Homo sapiens: one gene and its partners. The protein of the gene in region 2 interacts with the protein of the main gene of each other region in a biochemical or structural test. Each region holds a gene or a part of one and is shown on either strand. Other genes may lie near its edges. The genes, in order: PARK7, CSN1S1 and PRSS2.

Region 1 (7,544 bases), on a different chromosome or scaffold from region 2:
TCAACAATACCAAGAGCTGGCACTGGGAAAGTGGGAATTTTCCTACACTGCTGGTGGGACTACAAACTGGGACACTGGAGAGCAACTTGGCAAAACCTAGTCATGCTGACTACAGGCTATCCTTCGGCCTAGTCATTCTACTTTTAGATATATAACCTGGAAAAATTTCCTCACATTTGCACAAAGAAACCTACACAAGAATACGTATTACAGAATTGTAATGCTGTAATTAGAGGAATGGGTAGATTGTGGCATTCAGTGCAACACCAAGCAGCAATTTTAAGTGGATAAACTTAATCGACATGTATCTTCATTTCTGAGAACCAGAGGAGTATAGGGTTAACAGACTCTGGGGCCAGGCTGCCTGGGTCTGAGTTCTGGCTTTTGTACTTACTACGTGATGTGGGTACATTATTTATGTCTCTGTGCCTCAGTTTCTTCAACTGTAAAATGAGGATGGTGATATCTAACTCACGACATTGTTGTAAGGTTTATCGGCACTTAGAATGCTGCCTGGCACAGAGTTAGTTCTACTTCACTTCACTGTTCACTATTTTTAGATAGAGAGAGATAATATATAAACACGCAAAATGAGAACCACGGTCAAATGCTACCTTAAAGACATGCGTGGGGGCGGGTGCAGTAGCTCACATCTGTAATCACAGCACTTTGGGAGGCCGAGGTGGGTGGATCACGAGGTCAAGAGTTCAAGACCAGCCTGGCCAAGATGGTGAAACCCCATCTACTAAAAATACAAAAAATTAGCCAGGCATGGTGGTGCGCACCTGTAATCCCAGCTACTTGGGAGGCTGAGGCAGAGAACTGCTTGAACCCAGGAGGCAGAAGTTGCAGTGAGCTGAGGTCACACCACTGCACTCCAGCCTGGGTGACAGAGCAAGACTCTGTCTTAAAAAAAAAAAAAAAGACACACATGCATGGATACACAAGAGTGCGAGGATAGCACTTATCTTTAAGGAAGGAAGAAGGGGCATAGGATTGGAGAAATTTACAAAGGGGGCTTCAAATGTATTTCTTTGAAGCATCTGCTCTTTAAGAAACGAGTCTGAGGGGCCGGGCATGGTGGCTCCTGCCTGTAATCCCAGCACTGTAAAAGGCTAAGGCGGGCGGGTCACTTGAAGCCAGGAGTTCGAGACCAACCTGGCCAACATGGTGAAACCCCATCTGTACTAAAAATACAATTAGCCGGGCGTGGTGGCGGACACCTGTAATCCCAGCTGAGGGTGAGGCAGGAGAATCTCTTGAACCCGGGAGGCAGAGGTTGCAGCGAGCAGAGATCACACCACTGCGTTCCAGGCTGAGCGACACAGAGAGACACCATCTCAAAAAAAAAAAAAAAGAAGAAAAAAGAAATGGGTCTAAGGACAGTGCAGTGGCTCACGCCTGTAGTCCTAACACTTTGGGAGGCCTGAGGCGGGTGGACAACTTGAGCTCAGGAGTTGGAGAGCAGCCTGGGCAACATGGCAAAACCCTGTCTCTACAAAACATACAAAAATTAGCCAGGTGTGGTGGCACGCATCTGTAGTCTCAGCTATTTGGGAGGCTGAGGTGGGAAGATGGTTTGGGCCCAGGAGGCAGAGACCGAAATGAGCCAAGATCCTGCCATCGCACTCCAGCCTGGACGACAGAGCTCAAAACAAAAGAGAAATGGGTCTGAAGGAAATATGGCAAGACATTAACAAGCGTTAAATGTGAGCAGTGGATCAACAGGTATTTATTCTTATGTCATCTCTGAAATTTTGTGTATATTTGAAATATTTCATAGAGCACTTTGAATATTTTATTCAAAATGATTTAAAAATCCAAAAACATTTAAAACAGGAATGGCTAAAAATCGATGTGGGACTTACCCCAGCTCGCCTCATGACATCTACAGGGATGACCGTCTCCATTTCCTCTGCTCCTTTAGCCAGGATGACCAGAGCTCTTTTGGAAGCCATTTTTATGTTATATGTTTACAAGCCTTAAAAAAAAAAAAAAAAAAAGATTTCAAAAAACTTTCATTGCAACCCTGAGATACCCCAAAATTTAAAGTTTAGGAGCATTTTCAAGCAGAGTAAGTACTTCCTAGGGAAACGGTTTTCATAGACAACTGAATACGAAAAAAGCAGCAGTTTAGTTATCTTAACGTTGATTTGTATAGCAGTTTTAATTGCTCTGAGATGAAAACATAATGAGGGTGCTAAAAGGTGTAGTATTGCTTAGATTTTCTTCTACCATGTTCTCTTAAATCCAACTTTAATAGTATGTTGCAAATGGGTTTTTTAAAAATACAAGTACGTGGGTCTCCTGCATTTCACACAATGCGGGGAAACAGTCTTTTTTGAAGCACTGTTTCAGAGAAACGACTAAACTGAATTTCATGGGCAAAAATTTAAATGTGGTCTTTCGCAATTAACTTGTAATTTTTTGGAGGGGATTTTTGTTTTCTTAGTTATAACTGTACTAAAAAATTGTGTGTGGGGGTCAACAGTGTTAAATGTCTGAACACTTTTTTTAATGACTGAGAAAGATGGAAATCCCCTCACTGAAGTCAACCCAACTACATCTGTCTCTCTGCGCGGAGTTCTCACTGCCAACGACAGCAGCTCAACGAGGTTCCGAATTTTTTTTAGCCTATTTACAGATTATCTGGAGGGTTTACCGTCCACGCAAAACAGAGTTTAATAAAACGGCTAGCCAGTTCCATGCCGGCGAGAGGTTAGGCAGAAGATTCTGGACGCTTCAGCGTTGCCACCACGCTGGCGGTCAGTCAAATCCAACGCCAGCGACAGGGCCCGACTGGGAGGCCGGAAGCGAGGGCGGCCCCGACCCAGGCCCCGCGCCGGTTCTGAGCCAGCGGGACACCGTCCAGCACAGGGACACCGTCCAGCACCCCCACGCCGCCCAGCGCCACGGCCCACACATGCGCCGCGCCCCCGCTGGCGCTGACCTGCACCCCGCGCCTCTTCCTGCGGACGCGGCGCCCCGGCCCGTTGGGTACCACTCACCCCACACCAGGCTGAAAATGAACGCACGCCAGCACGCACGCGCGCCGTCCGGCCTCCCTCAGCCCCACACTGCGCAGACTCACGCCGCCTTGGCCTCACGCTGCGTCACGTCCGGCCGAGTCTACCTCGGACTGAGGCGGGGGTGGCACCGGGGAGTTTCTAGCTGGACAGCCCTGGGTGAGGCGGCTCGGTCCCACATGGTACCCCCCACGAATGGCACAGTCCGGCCTGCCCCGGCGCCCGCGGGGCTTAACAGTCTCTACCGCCACCCTCCGTGAGGAGCCGGTCTCTGGAACTGCCGAGGGACTGGGGTTGTCAGAGGGGTTCCTTAGTTCGCGCTCCGTGCACGCCTGCTCCCTTTGCGTTGTTCCTTTTCTGGCGCGCCTTCCCGTTTCGCCTCTGGTCTGTTAGGACTCTGGTCCAGGCCTCCCGGACCTCTCCCCCACGCCTGGTCTCCCGATCTCGGGCGACTCTGCCGCATTTATTCACACCCGGATGTCTCAGGGGTGTGAGTTTTTTTCTCAGCATTGTTTGTTTTCTTTAACGATCCTGATGCTGCTGCACCCACAGGACTAGAGCAGTGCTGCGCACATAAGTCTAATAAGTACCAAGTTGGTCAGATGTATTTACATCATAATCTCAAGTTGTATTTATTGATATGTAAGAGACGTATGTGTTTTCTGGGTACATGTGGTATTTTGATACTTTCATATAATGTGTAATGATTAAATCAGGGTAAATGAGATCTCTATCACCTTAAACATTTGTCTTTATACTGGGAACATTCCAGTTACTCTCTTCAATAATAACATTTTAAAATATACAACAGATTACTGTTAACTATAGTCACCCTACAGAACTCTGCCAACGCTAGGTCTTATTCCCTCTTAAGGAGAGCACAGATCACCTGGTGACCATCAAGCAGGCCCCTTATCTGAGGAATTTAGAAGTAATTAGATATCCCTATTATCTAAAGTTGGCACCTGGTACCAGGTTAAATCAAAGGAAATAGTTAAAGCCCAAAATTCTTGAATGAGCTTAGAAGGATCCTGGCTAAATGAACGCAACTTGGATTGAATTTGCAAAAAATGAGACATTCGAAAAGGGACATGAAAAATCCACCGCGGCATGCTCAGTTCTCTCTTGCTGAGGCTGCACTCTTCTGCAGCGTTCTAATAAAACTTTCCTTTTTCAAACCTATATTGTTGTCGATAAATTCTTCTTACCAACCAGCAAGTCGACCACTTTCTGATGCTGGGGCTCTTGACACCTTGCCCAGCACTTCTACCAATTTTTGTACCTATTAATCACCCTGTTCATCCCCTTCTCCTGGCTACCCTTCCTGGCCTCTGGTAACCACCAACTTATCTTCATGATATCCACTTTTCAACTTCCCATTTATGAGTGAAATCATGTGATGCTTGTCTTTCTTTGCCTGGCTTGTTTCACTTAACATAATGACCTCCAGTTCCATCAATGTTGTTGCAAATAGGATTTTATTATTTTTTATGGCTGAATAGTATTCATTGTGTATATTTACATTTTATTTATCCAGTCATCCATTGATGAACATTTTGGTTGATTCCATATTTTGACTGTTGTGAACAGTGCTACAATAAGCATAGGAGTGCAAATATCTCTTTGATATATTGATTTTCTTTCTTTTTTTTTTTTTTTGAGACTCCATCTTGCTCTGTCGCCTAGCCTGAAGTGCAGTGGCACCATCTTGGCTCACTGCAACCTCTGCCTCTGTGTTGAAACAATTCTCGTGCCTCAGTCTTTCGAGTAGCTGAGACTACAGGTGTGTGCCACCATGCCTGGCTAATTTTTGTATTTTTAGTAGAGACAGGGTTTTACTATGTTGGCCAGGCTGGTCTTGAACTCCTGACCCCAAGTGATCTGCCTGCCTCGGCCTCCCAAAGTGCTGGGATTATAGGCGTGAGCTACCGTGCCTGGCCCTTCCTTTCTTTTTGGTATATACCGGTAGTGGGATTGCTGGATCATATGGTAGTTATGATTCCAGAACTTATGATTTCTCAGAAGTTAATCTTCTGAGGATTCCATATTGTTTTCCATAGTGGCTGCACTAATTGAGATGCTCGCCAACAGTGTATGAGGTTCCTTCTTCACATCCATCTCAGCATGTTATTCCCTTTTTGATAAAGGCCATTTTAACTGGGATGAGATGATATCTTACTGTCTTTATTTGCATTTCTCTGATTAGTGACATTGAGCCCTTTTTCATATCTCTTGGCCATTTGTATCTCTTCAGAAATGTCTATTCAGATCTTTTGCCCACTTTTAAATCTGATTGTTTTCTTGCTATTGAGCTCCTAATATATTCTAGTCATTAGTCCCTCATCAAATGGATAGTTTGCAAATATTTTCTCCCATTCTGTGTGTTGTCTCTTTGCTTTGTTGTTTCCTTTGCTGTGCATATACTTTTTAGTTTGATGTAATTCCATTTGTCTGTTTTTGCTTTTGTTGTCTGTGCTTTGAGGTCTTTGCCCAGATCAATACCCTGGAACATTTCCCCAGTGTTTTCTTTCTTTTCTTTTCTTTTTTTTTTTTTTTTGAGATGGAGTCTCGCTCAGCCGCCTAGGCTGGAGTGCAGTGGCGCAATCTTGGCTCACTGCAACCACTGTCTCCTGGGTTCAAGCGATTCTCTGTCTCAGCCTCCCGAGTATCTGGGATTACAGGCACCCTCCATCATGCCTGTCTAATTTTTGTATTTTAGTCCAGACAGGGATTCACCATGTTTCCCAGGCTGGTCTCGAACTCCTAACCTCAGGTGATCCACTTGCCTCAGCCTCCCAAAGTGCTGGGATTACAGGTGTGAGCCACCGTGCCTGGCCCCCCCCCCCCCAGTGTTTTCTTCTAGTAATTTCTTTTCTTTTCTTTTTTTTTTTTTTTTGAGACAGAGTCTCGCTCTGTTGCCCAGGCTGGAGTGCAATGGTGCAATCTCAGCTCATTGCAACCTCCGCCTCCCAGGTTCAAGCAATTCTCCCACCTCAGCCTCTAGAGTAGCTGGGATTGCAGGCACCTGCCATCATGCCTGGCTAATTTTTGTATTTTTAGTAGAGATGAGCTTTCACCATGTTGGCCAGGCTAGTCTCAAACTCCTGACCTCAAGTGATCTGCCCACCTCGGCCTCCCACAGTGCTGGGATTACAGGTGTGAGCCACAGCACCTGGCCTAAATACATCAGTGTTTTTAAGGTTTCAATTTAGATATTAAAATCGCGTTTCTGGCCAGGCGCGGTGGTGCGTGCCTGTAATCCCAGCACTTTGGGAGGCCAAGGTGGGCAGATCACGAGGTCAAGAGATCGAGACCATCCTGGCCAACATGGTGAAACCCGGTCTCTACTAAAAATACAAAAATTAGCTGGGCATGGTGGCTTGCACCTGTAGTCCCAATTACTCGGGAGGCTGAAGCAGGGGAATTGCTTGAACCTGGGAGGCGGAGGCTGAAGTGAGCTGAGATCGCACCACTACACTCCAGCCTGGGTGACAGAGCGAGACTCTTGTCTCAAAAAAAAAAAAAAAATCACGTTTATTTTCTTTGTTTTGTTTTTGTTTTTGTTTTGAGACAGAGTCTTGCTCTGTCATCCAGGCTGGCGTGTAGTGGCACCATCTCGGCTCACTGCAACCTCTGTCTCCCAGGTTCAAGCAATTCTCGTACCTCAGTCTCCCGAGTAGCTGGGACTACAGGCGTGCACCATCATGCCCAACTAATTTTTGTATTTTTATTAGAGACGGGGTTTCACCATGTTGGCCAAACTGGTCTCAAACTCCTGACCTCAAGTGATCTGCCCACCTCGGCCTCCCAAAGTGCTGGGATTACAGTTGTGAGCCACTGCACCTGGCCACATTTATTTCAAGAAATAAATTTTTTGTTAGTTTACAAAGCACTTTGGTATATTTCATGTGATTCTTACAATGATGGTGAGTGTGTTATTTTATTTAATTTTAAAAATTGGAGCTGTGCGGGGTGTCTCATCCCAACACTCTGGGAGGCCGAGGCGGGAGGATTGTTTGAGCCCAGGAGTTGGGGACCAGCCTGGACAACATGGCAAGACCCTGTCTCTACAAAAAATTTTAAAAATTACACGCCTATGGGTCCCAGCTACTTGAGAGGCTGACAGCGCAGCGGGGGAATCACTTGAGCCCAGGAGGTCAAGGCTGCAGTGGGTCATGATCTCATGCCACTGCACTCCAGGCTGGATGACAGAGTGAGACTGTGTCTCTAAAAAAAAAAAAAAAAAATGTGAATAATTGATGAACACTGAACTTGTGCAAAAGTCTGAAATGTCTTTAATCATATGACATTTAAGAAGAAACTTTTAGGAGTTCTGGAATGACTTCACTTTTGGCTATTTGCAAAGGAAGCAGCTGTGAAGGAGTGTGGAAAACAGGAATGACAGAGAAAGAGGAAAGACAAGTGGTCAGATGTGTGCTTCTAGAACCAAGGAGGGATACAGTTAGATGGAAGGAAAACCAAAAGAAGACAGGCTTTTTTGATCCAGTCTGCGTGGTA
Region 2 (7,409 bases):
AGTTTCTCTGGGACTACAGGGAAAAAAAAAGAAATCATAATTATTTTTAGACAAATATCAAAGGAAAATAATCATTTCCTTTCTTTAGATTATGGCTGGTAGTTGAGAAAACTATGTAAAACATCTTTAAAAAAGTAAAAATTCTGGGTTAGTTTGAATCCAGAATAATAAACAATTTATTTAGTTTTCTGAACTATATATATTACACCATAGTTCTAAAGATGATTTTAAACTAGTATAAAAAATGTTGGGCAAAATATAATTTCCTAATTCAAACGCTTTCTGGGTTTTATTTTTATCATCACTTAAATTATACGAAAATTGATCTCATTCTGCATTTTGAGTGTGGAGACAAGACCACGTTAAACAGTGACATAAACAAATAAAGAACCCTATTGTTTGCTTTGGAATAAAAGTGTAACATCTATTTTCTGGGCTGCTTTTCCCCACTTCCTGGTAGAATGACAAGATAAGAACTGCTCAGACAGTTCATTCCTGAGGAAGTTTTATCATTGTTTTGGTAACTTGCAAGCAGAGATTTCTTTCTATTGATGCTTAGTTTATAGCATAAACAAAGACTATTGGTTCAGAAGTTGACAATTCCTGATTCTGCACTTTCCAAAGGAGAATTTAGAGAACAAGTCTGTCAGTGTAAATGACAGGCTATATCTGCATTTCAGAAATTTTTCTTCTGTATGAGATAATTTCAGTGTCCAAATATCCCTTATCATCCCTCTAAACTGATGTTTTTTCCAGTCAGGTGATTCCTGTTTATTCTTCTCATTCATTAACTACACATAACAGGAGAGAACAGAGAAAACTTTTTGGTTCACATACTTATCTAATTGATATAAACACTCTTTTTGAGAAGAAAGGTAATTTTAATTCACATTATCTAGTTTCATTGTCTACAGTGACCACAATAAATTGATCACTCAATTAGCTGAATCACCCTAGTTTTCTATCCCTTCTTGGGGGAAGAAAAGTTGACACAAGCCATCTCAAATAAGGGTTTGATTTTGATTCCAAAAGTAGGATACATTGGAACATGTGGCTTTGTGTTATATTTGGTAAAGAAATGTTGGACAACTATTACATTTTTAGAAATATGAGAATTTTGTAGTAGACTCAAGGAACAGGCCTAATCACATTGTTTGTTGCTATTTATTATGTTGTGCATTACCTTATTCTTTTTCTTACTTTTAAATTTTTAGCTCTTTTTTATTGTGGGGTGCTTATAATTCAAGTCAGACATTTTATTCAGAGTTAAGGCTCTCAGTGGACTATGCAATAATGATGAAAATGTGAAGCATTACTGCATTTCTATTGTCAAGACTTCAGAGGCCAATTAGAGATCATCCAGTGCTTTAAGATTATTTCTCTGGGTATCCTATGTTTGATGAAGTGTCAGGTCATTTCTAACAAGAGTCTAAGACTTTCTAAATTCTCTACTGAACTTACAGGCCTGGCAAGAGCAACAGCCACAAGACAGGTGAGAATGAGAAGCCTCATGGTTATCAGAGCCTATGTAAGAGAACAAAAAAGAAAGAGTTAGATATTATTACGTTAAATTTGTTTCCTGAAAAAAATTCTTGATTTTTCAACAAAGGAGCAAATTATGATAAAAGTAGGCTGATTTGAGGAGCTGTAATGTGAATTTTTATAAACTTAAGATTTTAAAAACTTTACTACTCAATATCAATGTTTACCATTCTAGTTATTTTTCTTAGTTCTTATATTATTTAGAAATACTAATTTCTTACAAACATTTTTCTTCACTAACACTTTAAAACATAACATTTTGTTCTTAATGTAATAATATGGCTTAGAGAAATAAAGAAGTGCTAATATTGAAATACAATTGAAAAAAGAAAACACTTTTCCTCCTAGATGACAAATCAGATTTTCTAAAGTGGGCAATAAAGTTAAATCCACTGAGAACTGGAATTTAATTTTATTGAAAAGTTTTGAAAATGAGCTTCTCTTTTAAATCTATTTGAGAGCATTCTTTTCTTTTAGAGTCTTCATGAAAAATCCTGTCTGCACGTTATGTAAAAGCTATTGATCTCTTTCAATTTTTAAATAAAGAATCTAGCCATAACTTCGTGTTTTGCTACATTGGAATATTCATGACATAAATATATAAAGATGATTGAATTGGATAGAATCAAAATATTGACATGTCTTATATTTGATTTCCAGAGTTTCATTAAATTGCAAGAACCCCGAAATATGGACATCCACATGTACTGGGAAAATGGTTTCCAGAGAAATCATTAGAAAAAAAATCAGGTCACACATACTATTTGTTCACACCTTAATCAACATACAAATGCTGACATTTATATATATTGCTTCAGTCTACAAATTTTAGAATCTAAATGTGTTAATAAAAAAGGCATATTTTTGAACCCAAATAAATTTACTATTTGTGTCTTTCTGAATATCTAAATTTAATAATCATTACAAAGTAGCCATCAATAGCTAATTATCTATAATAGATATTCACATTGTAGAGTTAATTTTGTTGCCCAAATGACATGAAACAAAAATGGCCTTGAACTATTCTGCTAGAAATGGTTTTTGCTATGGTAATTACAAAAATAAGAAATTATTTGCATAACAACTTCTCATAGAATTAGGTAAAAATAATTTAAATTAGCTTACCCCAAGCCTCTACTGAAATTATGTATCAACTTTAAAAATATATTTTAGTTACAAAATTATCAAAAAATGATTTGGTATTTTTATAAAACTGTATTGATTCATCACCTAAAGCTGTAAAATGGTATCAGAATTTGCAAAAGGATTTTTAAGGTGCCAGAAAATCATAAGAAGTTTTAATATTTGCAAACATATGGAAATGGTACAAATATACTTAGTAAACAGTGGAAGAAAGAGATTAGATAATGTAAAATGATAGCAATTTTGCTGTATGTAAACGCAGTACCTTAAGCCCAAGTCTGGAGAGAAGCAAGTTGTGTTGATGACCAAGATGATGGCCGATCTCTTTGCTTTACGCTATTTAAATGTGGTAATTAGAAAATGCTAATTTTGTGGTTTCAGTTCAACCAATAGGTTTATTTAAATTCTAAGAATTCTCCCAAATAGGAAACTAATTTTCTGTCCAATTCCTTTCCCAGGAAATTCTGAGAATTTTCAACAGGGAGTGATTCATGCTATGATAACAGATTACACAAGAAATAAAGTGGCATTATTGCAAATTAAAATACAAAAATTTCCAAATTTATGGCTATTATAAAAACATGATTTTATGTTGAAGGGATAATTTGACAGGAACATATTAATAAAATTCTCTGTATATCTTTTGAAAAATTCAATTCCTATAATGGAAATCCTGGGGACAAAATAGGGTCTTAGAAACGTTCCAATTTCTATCAGTGTACCAGGCCATTAAAAGAATTCATCATTTATTTACCTTTTAAAATGCAGCTTGTCCTCTATTATTTATTGTGACTATCTGCTTTATGGATTAACTTATACTGTATATGCTCTGATCTTTTTTTCAAAGAAGGATATCCAACTGTCCTATGTGTTTTGGTGATATTTAAGCTACAGCAGACAATTTTTTGTTTGCTTTCTTTTAGGCATATTGGTTGTGATAGTATTTATTTAACAAATTATAACATTGACTAATTAGAAGTAATATTTATTCATTAATTTTAATTTTAAAAGATTTTGGAAAATTATGCCATACCTCTGATTTCCTGTTTTTTAAAAGTAAATAAAGGAAAGAAATGAAAATGCCTCTCTCCTATCCCAGACTCTGTTCCTTTATGTTAACTATCATTATACAATGTAGAAAAATACTATATCCTGAGGAAAATATCTGTAATAGAGAGGGTTTTTAAAAATTGTTGTTGACTGCGACTTTGCTTTTTTACAGGAAAAGAATCATACTATATATTTTAGGAAATAAAAAAATAGTAATGATATTTACAGCCTTTTCACAGTCATATGAAAAGGGCATTATTCTGGGTTAACACACATTTCAGACTGGTTAATTTCAGATTGGGGATCAGAAGAGATGTACTTTTCCATATTAAAGTTCTCTTTAGTTAGTGTTTTCCTTACTGACTACATCACATAAATTTCAACAACTTACTAGTGTTTCCTATTCACTGTGATTCATTTAAGAGGCTGAGACAAGCATCAGCTGTATTACAGTACCTTGGTTTTGTCTTTTCCCAGAAGTGTACCCAGGAAAACTGATTTATTTTACTCCTAACTCAAAATCAAGCTATACCTACCAACCAAAAAAAAGGCCAGGACCAGATGGATTCACAGCCGAATTCTACCAGAGGTACAAGGAGGAGCTGGTACCATTCCTTCTGAAACTATTCCAATCAATAGAAAAAGAGGAAATCCTCCCTAACTCATTTTATGAGGCCATCATCATCCTGATATCAATGCCTGGCAGAGACACAACAGAAAAAGAATTTTAGACCAATATCCCTGATGAACATCGATGCAAAAATCCTCAATAAAATACTGGCAAACCAAATCCAGCAGCACATCAAAAAGCTTATCCACCATGATCAAGTGGGCTTCATCCCTGGGATGCAAGGCTGGTTCAACATACAAAAATCAATAAACGTAATACAGCATATAAACAGAACCAAGGACAAAAACCACATGGTTATCTCAAAAGATGCAGAAAAGGCCTTTGACAAAATTCAATAGCCCTTCATGCTAAAAACTCTCAATAAATTCGGGATTGATGAGACATATCTCAAAATAATAAGGGCTATTTATGACAAACCCACAGCCAGTATCATACCGAATGGACAAAAACTGGAAGCACTCCCTTTGAAAACTGTCACGAGACAGGGATGCCCTCTCTCACCACTCCTATTCAACAGTGTTGGAAGTTCTGGCCTGGGCAATCAGGCAAGAGAAGGAAATAAAGGGCATTCAATTAGGAAAAGAGGAAGTCAAATTGTCCCTGTTTGCAGATGACATGATTGTATATTTAGAAAATCCCATCATCTCAGCCCAAAATCTCCTTAAGCTGATATACAACTTCAGCAAAGTCTCAGGATACAAAATCAATGTACAAAAATCACAAGCATTCTTATACCAATAACAGACAAACAGCCAAATCACGAGTGAACTCCCATTCACAATTGCTTCAAAGAGAATAAAATACCTAGGAATCCAGCTTACAAGGAATGTGAAGGACCTCTTCAAGGAGAACTACAAACCACTGCTCAATGAAATAAAAGAGGACACAAACAAATGGAAGAACATTCCATGCTCATGGATAGGAAGAATCAATATTGTGAAAATGGCCATAATGCCCAAGGTAATTTACAGGTTTAATGCCATCCCCATCAAGCTACCAATGACTTCCTTCACAGAATTGGAAAAAAAAGTACTTTAAAGTTCATATGGAACCAAAAAGGAGCCCGCATTGCCAAGTCAGTCCTAAGCCAAAAGAACAAAGCTGGAGGCATCATATGACCTGACTTCAAACTATACTACAAGGCTACAGTAACCAAAACAGCATAGTACTGGAACCAAAACAGAGATATAGACCAATGGAACAGAACAGAGCCCTCAGAATTAACACTACACATCTACAACCATCTGATCTTTGACAAACCTGACAAAAGCAAGAAATGGGGAAAGGATTCCCTATTTAATAAATGGTGCTGGGAAAACTGGCTAGCCATGTGTAGAAAGCTGAAACTGGATCCCTTCCTTACACTTTATACAAAAATTAATTCAAGATGAATTAAAGACTTAAATATTAGACCTAAAACCATAAGAACCCTAGAAGAAAACCTAGGCAATACCATTCAGGACATAGGCATGGGCAAGGGCAAGGACTTCATGTCTAAAACACCAAAAGCAATGGCAACAAAAGCCAAAATTGACAAATGGGATCTAATTAAACTAAAGAGCCTCTGCACAGCAAAAGAAACTACCATCAGAGTGAACAGGCAACCTACAGAATGGGAGAAAATTTTTGCAATCTACTCATCTGACAAAGGGCTAATATCCAGAATCTACAAAGAACTCAAACAAATTTACAAGAAAAAAACAAACAACCCCATCAAAAAGTGGGTGAAGGATATGAACAGACACTTCTCAAAAGAAGACATTTATGCAGCCAACAGACACATGAAAAAATGCTCATCATCACTGGCCATCAGAGAAATGCAAATCAAAACCACAATGAGATACCATCTCACACCAGTTAGAATGGTGATCATTAAAAAGTCAGGAAACAACAGGTGCTGGAGAGAATGTGGAGAAATAGGAATACTTTCACACTGTTGGTGGGACTGTAAACTAGTTCAACCATTGTGGAAGACAGTGTGGCAATTCCTCAAGGATCTAGAACTAGAAATACCATTTGACCCAGCCATCCCATTACTGGGAATATACCCAAAGGATTATAAATCATGCTGCTATAAAGACACATGCACACGTGTGTTTATTGCGGCACTATTCACAATAACAAAGACTTGGAACCAACCCAAATGACCAACAATAATAGACTGGATTAAGAAAATGTGGCACATATACACCATGGAATACTATGCAGCCATAAAAAAGGATGAGTTCATGTCCTTTGTAGGGACATGGATGAAGCTGCAAACCGTCATTCTCAGCAAACTATTGCAAGGACAGAAAACCAAACACCACATGTTCTCACTCATAGGTGAGAATTGAACAATGAGAACACTTGGACACAGGAAGGGGAACATCACACACAGGGGCCTGTCGTGGGGTGGGGGAGGAGGGAGGGATAGCATTAGGAGATGTACCTAATGTACATGATGAGTTAATGGGTGCAGCACACCAACATGGCACATGTATACATATGTGACAAACCTGCACATTGTGCACATGTACCCTAGAACTTAAAGTATAATAATAAAAAAAGAAAAAAATCAAGCTATATAAAAATCTTCTGTAATTTATGAAAAGAATCTGTATCCTCATTTGTTTATTCATTTATTTACTTATTTATTCAGAAAGATGAAAGTGCTGGACAAGGTATTGCAGACATAAAATTTGAGCAATACAAAATTTCCAGCCTCAAAGTGTGATGGATAATTAACACACAAAAAGTAAAGAATTTTAATTTTTACAAATAGTCCAAAAACAGAGATTTGAACAGGGCCTCCGGAGTATGGAGTACCTGAGGACAACTAAGACTGTGGGCCATACCAGACAAGGCCCCTTAGATGAATTTGATAATAAGAAGCCTTGACATCACAGGGGATCAATTAAACAATGACAAATGTCTAATTTACATCATAAGGCAAACCACCTCTTAGTGAATTTACATAACAGCTCTGGAAATTTTCATGAACTCAAAATCCAGGGTTTTTAAAATCTGTAATGTGGCCAGGCATGGTGCGTCATGCCTGTCA
Region 3 (7,406 bases), on a different chromosome or scaffold from region 2:
CTGGCAGGAATCCTTGCCTCCCTCGAGGAAGCCCACACAGAACATGTTGTTGGTAATCTTTCCAGGGTAGGAGGCTTCACACTCAGCCTGGCTCAGCACAGGAGCATCCAGGCACTGCAGCTCGTCTGGGTAGTCGGCTGTGAGGATCAGGAAGAGAACAAAGAAAGAAATGTGGGTTAGGCCAGAGAAAGAGACAATAGTCTAGGATGGAACATTGAAGAGGAACACTGCCCCTGGAGAGGACTCCAAAACATAAGTCCTGGCAAGGGACTCTGGCTTTTAGTTCCCAGAATGATCATTGTTGAACCTCTCCCACGAAGTGATCATAGCAAGTTCTCCATTTGTCCTGTCTTTTGATTTTAGGAGCCACATCCTTGAGAATTTGCATCTCTCTGGTGCCCAGTGCAGAGCCTGTGTGTAATGGGCACTAGAAATGTGTCTTAAGCCTGGAGGCGAGAGGATTTAAGTTAAGGGGCATGGTTTGTTCTGGAAATTGTGGGATGGAGGGAAGTAGAAGGACAAAGGGTCCCACTCACCACCAGAACTCAGAGTGTTGCCCCAGCCGGAGATGAGGGACTCGGTGCCAGCAGCTGGAGGGGCAGTGGGCAGAGAGATGGCGGACACGCGGGAATTGATGACGGCAGGTGAGGAGAGCTTGATCAGCAGGATGTCATTGTCCAGAGTCCGGCTGTTGTATTTGGGGTGGCGGATGATCTTGGCCGCATTGATGAACTGTTCATTCCCCTCCAGGACTTCGATGTTGTGCTCTCCCAGTCTCACCTGGATGCGGCTGATGGGCAGGGCAGGCATGGTGAAGACCTTCTCCCACAGCCAGGGCACCCCTCCCACCTTTCCATGGGTCCTTAAGCTCCCTGCTCATGGACAGCTCTGGAGGCATGGGGTGGGGTGTGTGGCCATATTGCATGGGCAGGAGAGCAATGTGGGTCAGTGCAGGTGTGAAACCCAGGACCTTTCTGCTTCAGAGGTTGGTGGTAGTGGAGTGGGGAAGAGTCAAAGGGATCCCACCAGAGGCTGCTCCTCAATCTGCCTTCCCAGACTCTTTCCCATAATCTCCATGTCACTAGCACTGTGGGCACAAGGAGCTCCTTGAAGTTTTCCCAACATTCTTCACTCCAGGCCTTTGCTAACTGTGCACAGTGCCTGCTCCTCCCTCCATTCTTGGCCTGGTGAGCACCACCCTTCTGTGTAATCTAATCCAAGGGTAGCCATAGCATTAGCATCTCCTGGGAATTTGTTAGAAATGTAAGTTCTTGGTCCTTACCCCCACCTACTGATCAGAACCTTGGGGATGGGTCCCAGTGATTTGTGCCTTAACAAGCCTGCAGGGAGTTCTGATGCATACTCAGGTTTAAGAGTTCTTGGTGTAGGCAGCAGTTCTCAGCTCTGTCTATACACTCTACAGTTACCAGAGGTAGAGTGTGAAATACTCACTGATATTCACACCCTCTTCCTGATAATTTTGAGTTAATTGCCCTGGGATAGAACACAGGGATCAGTATTTTTAAGTACTCATTCTTAGGTGGCTTTAATGTGTAGCTAACCAGCAAAAGTACTAGCCTGCTCTTCTCACTAGCTCTCACCACCCCAAGATCATCCCTGCCTGCTTTTATGACCACAACCCTTGCTGTTTCATGGATTTGCCTGGGTGTGAGGGCTTCCTGTCTTGTGTTCACTCTCTGCTCTGGAGAGTCAGCTGCTGCCAACAAGTTTTCTTTTCCACCATCTCTCTCGTCCGTCCTACCCAACCTCAGTACTTCCCTGGGCTGAATCCAAGCTCTCCCAGGCAGCCTGGCTGGGAGTTTTGCAGTCAGGGGCCCCACACTTACGACTTGTAGCAGTGACCTGCTGACACCACCCACTGTTCGCTGATGAGGGAGCCACCGCAGAAGTGGTAGCCAGAATTCAAGGACACCTGGTAGGGGACAGAATTCTCCTCACAGATGTAGCCCCCAACGATCTTGTCATCATCATCAAAGGGGGCAGCAACTGGAGTGGAGATGGGAAGGGAGAAGGCAAGTCAGTAGCATGTTAGGGGTGGCGCTCCCAGCCTGTGGCTGCTTCCTGCTAATTAGAAAACCTTAACAAGCTCAGTGAGGCTAGGCAAGGGGGGGAGCGCTGCCAGCCCTGGTGATCATCACTGGATGTGGCTCCCAAGTCTCTGTGTCTGCAGGGCACGTAGCTAGGTACCCTGTGGGGGTTCAGATCTCTCCTGGGGTCACCAGGCTGAGGACGCAAGGAATATCCTCACAATACTTCCAGTGGGATAGGATTTGGGATGTGGCTGTCTCAAGCACTGAAGTCTTCTCTCTTTTATTCACCACCTGTGTACTCCACCTGGTTATTTAAGCCCCGGATTGTCTGGCTACTTTGGCCAAGCTAGGAAAACCCCCTGGCGACATCGACTTGGCCATGACCAGTTTCCCCCTCAGCTCAAATCTGCCCAGTGAGGGCAGAGTTGAGGGAAGCCCCAGGCTCACTTTTGCAGAACAAAGGTATACGTTATTATTGGTCAAAACAACAGCAATTCTTAACCTTGGCTGCATGCCTAGAAATGTTAAAAATCACCTGGGAAGCTTAAAAGCCCAGAACACAGGCTGCACACCAGACAATTGAAGTGAGAATTTCTAGAGTTGAGTGTCTTGCATGAGTAATTTCAACCTCCCCAGGTGCATTCGAGGTTAAGAGCAGCTATAGTGGTGCTATTGTGGTGCTGTCAGAGCCAAGCCTGAAGCCTACTGCTTCATTTCATGGGCCAGCCCCACCTGGTCTCCCTTCCCAGCTTCTCCAACCACAGCTCGGATATGGATGAATAACAGCGGTGGGAGTGAAATCAAGGAGAAGGTGGAACAAGTGAGGCTTAAAAAGAGCCCAAGGAGGATGGGAAGAAGAAATGCCAGATGGAGGAAATAGAATATCACAGCACAGTCAAAAGAGGAGAGGTGGCAAGAATGGCAGGGCATGTGTCTGCCAGGGAAGGGTTGGTTGAGGCCTGAGGCAGGGCGTGAAACTCACCAGCAGCTGCAACAAAGGTAAGGATCAGAAGTAGATTCATGGTGGTAGAGTGTGCCTGATTGCTGGTGGAGAACCCGTCTTTATACCTCCCGAGGATGGGGAGAGGAGGTGTCTGTGAGGTGAGGGTCACTGCTCCTCCCAGCACAAACACACCTGCAGCTTTCCCCTTCCTATGGTCTTGCATCAGTATGTTTGGCCACTCTGTGGGTTTGTGATTCACAGGTGATAAGGAAACTTGCCTTCTGAGAGCAGAGAGGGAGACCGGCTGTTTCCTGGAAGGATGCTGATATGGGAAAGACAGGGGAAGCCAAGCCCCAGATCACACAGCTGGGCTTTCTTAGGCCGAGGAGATGAGGGTTAGAAGGAGGGAGAATGGCCTGGCTGTTTAGGAATATATTTTACTATTGGGGTTATATTTAATGTACTTAAGGAAGGGCAAGTGTTGGTAGCAAGCTTGGCTTTTTAGTGTCCTGGAGCTCCCAGGAGAGGGGCAAAGTCTTATCTAACTAAGGCTTGTTCCTGTGAATATGAAGATGCTTCTCTCCAGTCACTCAGTGGGAAAGTCAAATCCAAGGCTTTGGGGAATGAGAATTCCAACATTAAGGGGTAAGGAGAAGAGAGACTCAGCATTCCATAGGATGCTGGGCTTGAAGATGGCTCTCCCTCCTACCACGGCATAGGGATGAGAAGAAGGAGGGGGCACAGGTTAGGTAGGAGCTTACTCAGTGCATCTGGAGGATGGAAAACCAATGGCGCACTCCTCCCCTTCTTCAATGTGAAGACATTTGTCTCTCATGTGCATCCTGTCATAGGTTCTTTTTATGCAGCCTCATGGTTGCCCTTGCAACCTGCACTCAGGGTGATTGAAACTGACCCACCTGCTTGGGGCTGACAGCCTGAACCAGAATGACATGCCCCTGATCACATGTCAGAGTTTGGACCATGGTAAATCTGGGTTATGATTTGATCTGAGAATCAGCAGTAGGTAGGGATTTGAGCACATGGTAAATGGGTGACATATTGGGTTCAATAACAAAGATGTGGAGGGGTGGGTCTAGAATTTTCTATTTTAGATGTAGTGAGATTATACTTGGCTCAGTACTAAGTGAATCTTTCTAGAGAATATCCTGATTTGAGCCCTACCAAGGGTACTAAGATACAGTCGTGTAATTGACTGAGGCATAACCTGGCCAGAGCAGTGTGGAGATGGAGATGCTGTCTGCGCTCAGGTCTAATAATGTAAGGAAAGGAGGGGCTTCCTTATGAGGGTGCTTTCCCTTCTCATCAACTCTGAGCTAATGTTGGTGATGGGCAGGAGTGAGCAGAGTTCAAGTTTGAATTCTTTGAAAGGTAAAAGAAGCAGGGATGTTCTGGAGACAGTGAGCAAAATGAGAAAAGCTCAGAAACTTGCTGGAGAAATCGGACATGGCCAGGGGGCTAGAGGGAGGAAGCAAATGGAAACCAGAGGTAACTGGAAAAAAATACCAAAATAGGGTCCATGGTGTTGAGAGGACACACAGAGTACCTTCAGGTTCAGCTCCTGGCATGGCCACTGAGGCAGCTTCCCCACAGCCAGGAGACCCACTGCTCTGAGGCCCCCTCTCTCCCCGGTACCCTCTCTAATCACTAATAGGCTGATACCTAACGCTGCTATGCTTAGATGGTGCATGGTGCCTGACTGCTTCACGGGAGTTTTCACGTAAGCAACAGTGGTACATTGCTCTTTGTTTATGCTGAGTTTCGCAGTTTAACTTCCCACCAACGTGCTAATGGTGACTTGTGTGGAGCAAAATTATTTCCATTTATAGAGGAAGAGACTGAGATTCAGAAGGATTCTGTCTTGCCCAAGAATACAGATCTTGGCAGAGCTGACCATAAGGCCAACAGAAGCCATGGAGAGCATTGTGAAGTGTGGGAATTGCTGCACGTGGCATCTAAAAGGAGATTTATTGAGGATCAAGGCAGAGGTCCCCAGAGGACAAACTGTACATCTGATTCCTTCCTGGTGCTTTTCTTCCTGGCAGAAATAGATGATTGAATTCATCTTTCTCCTGGCACCTTTTCTCAGAGCCTTACCTTGCCACAGTTCCAGACCCATCCAGGCCATGACTGCCATGTAGATGACACACCTCTCTGCTCATGAATAACTGGCCAAGCCTGAGGTAGCTAGGTTTTAGAGCATTGATAATATGGGGTTTTGCTGTGTTGTCGCTGAACATGTTATTTCATTTTGTCCCCTTGTCATGGGGTCTTCACAGAACTCCTGCCTTAGAGGATAAGGAGAGACTCTTGCTCTAGCAACTATAGACACCAGTGTGCACTAAACAGGGAGGTGAACCTTGGTAGAAGATGGAGAATTTTTTTGGAAAAAGGGATTTTTGGATCAGGGCTTGTAGCTCTGACTCTTTTTCTGAAAGGTAACACCCAAGAATTGAGGATTTTCTGTATCTAGAGCTTGAAGACTAGCCTTCTCCAGTATTTTGTGCTCTTCCTTAAGCGATCACAGTATAGTCTGAGGTCAGCTTTCTTCAAAAAGGAATGACCTTACAGGCAGAGGAGATAGCTATAGGTGAAGACTGTTACCTCATACTGTAGACTCAGATGTGTAGGATAGGTTCAGATCCAGCTACCCATGCTCAATTTGGGGGACATGTCATTCTTGGTACTGTTCATTCTGAACTATAGATTTCTTTGTCTACTTCTCTAAGATATCTTTCTGGCTTGTGTTTAGTGCTTAACATGCCAAACCACTGTCCTTCCATTATCATAACAGTGAATCATTTCTGTGTGCTTCCTATATAGCATGTAACTTACTATACAGCATGTCACTCATATAAGTTAAGAACTTTTTTTTCATTTTATCATCACAACCACCTATGGAATTGCCCACTTTACAGATGAGCAAATGAGCTTTCTGAAGGTGAAGTGACTCTTCCATGTTCCAGAGCAGCAGCTCCCAGCCAGAGCCAGCCCTGCCTGCACTCAAGACCTTGGCAAAGCAACCAGAGCCAGAAAGAACCATGAGAGAAGCTTTCAATGACTTTCAGACACTTTGTCCTCCTTTTTTACCCTTCTCCTCTCCTGCTTTTTTCCCCATCTCCAAGTATATTTTGGGATGTGGATGCCATTCGCCACACAAAAACACTTGGGATTCATTCCTGATACCCCAATTCATCCCACTTTCCCCCCTTTAAAGTCAGATCTCACCTACCTGTTTGGTCAGAGAGATGTGTGTTTTAAAATCCCCAAGGAAGGAGGCAGGGACTGTGCCCTCAGATGATTATTGGTGAAGTGGGTTTATGCTTAATTTCAGCTTAAGAGAATGTTGCTGTGTCTCTGCCTAGGACAGGCAGCCCACTGTGGCCCTGGGTGATGAAGGAAGCCCACAGAGGCCCAGGGTTTCTCACCCGTGGCTGCCAGTGTCTGCAGAGCCAGAATTGAGCTAATCCTGTGAAAGGATGAGCGCTGATAGGCAGTTGTATGGTAGGTTGCTGTGGGGCTTCTAGATCTCTCAAATTCCACATGACAAGATCAATGCATGCGTGAGGGGCCCCTTCCCAGCAGGCTCTGGTGGCTACAAACTGGTTCACGTGTGGAAGATCATACCACTTTACCTTTGGTTTTTCTTTGAAAAGCAAACAATGAAAGACAGCTGAAAACAAGAATTCTACCAGTGGGCAGGCAAGAATTCTCGTTGGGAAAAGGGATGTTTGTGGCTGTTCCCCACATTGGGCTTGAAAGAGCTTGGCTGCAGTGTGGTTATTATTAAAATGTCCACAGAATAGAAGATGCTCATGAGGCTGCAGTGGAAAGGGAATGCTTGTACACTGTTGGCCAGAGTGTAAATCAGTTCATGGAAAAATTAATGTAGAAAACCGTTTGGAGATTTCTGAAACAATTTAAAACAGAACTATCTTTCCACCCAGCACTTGCTTTATTGGGCATTTACCTAAAGGAAAGTAATTGTTCTGCCAAAAAGACTCATGCTCTTGCATGTCCATCACAGCACTATTCACAGTAGCAAAGCCATGGAATCAACCTAGGTGGCCATCAGCGGTAGACTGGATAAAGAAAATGTGGTACATATACACCATGGAATACTATGCAGCCATGAAAAGAATGAAATCATGTCCTTTGCAGCAACATGGATGGAGCTGGAGACCATAATCCTAAGCAAATTAACATGGGAACAGAAAACCAAATATCACGTTCTCATGTATAAGTCGGAGCTGAGCATTGGGTAAAAATGGATGTAAAGATGGGAAGAGTAGACACTGCAACTACTAGAGGGAAGAGAGAAGGAGTGTGGAAAGGGCTGAAAAAATACCTATTGGGTACTGTGCTCAGTTCCTGAGTGAGGAGATCATTTGTGC

What was found.
Region 1: of the proteins of CSN1S1 (region 2) and PARK7, one has a biochemical effect on the other in vitro, tested with the Homo sapiens proteins (one study listed by BioGRID).
Region 3: of the proteins of CSN1S1 (region 2) and PRSS2, one has a biochemical effect on the other in vitro, tested with the Homo sapiens proteins (one study listed by BioGRID).

Annotation. Positions count from the first base shown.
Region 1 is NC_000001.11:7,957,200-7,964,743, reverse strand, and holds the start of PARK7 (Parkinson disease protein 7), read right to left. Parts: upstream 3,034-7,544; 5' UTR 2,951-3,033; exon of another isoform or gene 2,663-2,950; intron 1,982-2,662; 5' UTR 1,959-1,981; coding exon 1,869-1,958; intron 1-1,868. UniProt on the Homo sapiens protein: Multifunctional protein with controversial molecular function which plays an important role in cell protection against oxidative stress and cell death acting as oxidative stress sensor and redox-sensitive chaperone and protease.
Region 2 is NC_000004.12:69,926,659-69,934,067, reverse strand, and holds the start of CSN1S1 (alpha-S1-casein isoform 1 precursor), read right to left. Parts: upstream 3,001-7,409; 5' UTR 2,951-3,000; intron 1,525-2,950; 5' UTR 1,513-1,524; coding exon 1,462-1,512; intron 1-1,461. UniProt on the Homo sapiens protein: Important role in the capacity of milk to transport calcium phosphate. Casoxin D acts as opioid antagonist and has vasorelaxing activity mediated by bradykinin B1 receptors.
Region 3 is NC_000007.14:142,766,650-142,774,055, reverse strand, and holds the start of PRSS2 (trypsin-2 isoform 2 preproprotein), read right to left. Parts: upstream 3,087-7,406; 5' UTR 3,074-3,086; coding exon 3,034-3,073; intron 2,008-3,033; coding exon 1,848-2,007; intron 1,495-1,847; coding exon of another isoform or gene 1,453-1,494; intron 791-1,452; coding exon 537-790; intron 138-536; coding exon 1-137. UniProt on the Homo sapiens protein: In the ileum, may be involved in defensin processing, including DEFA5.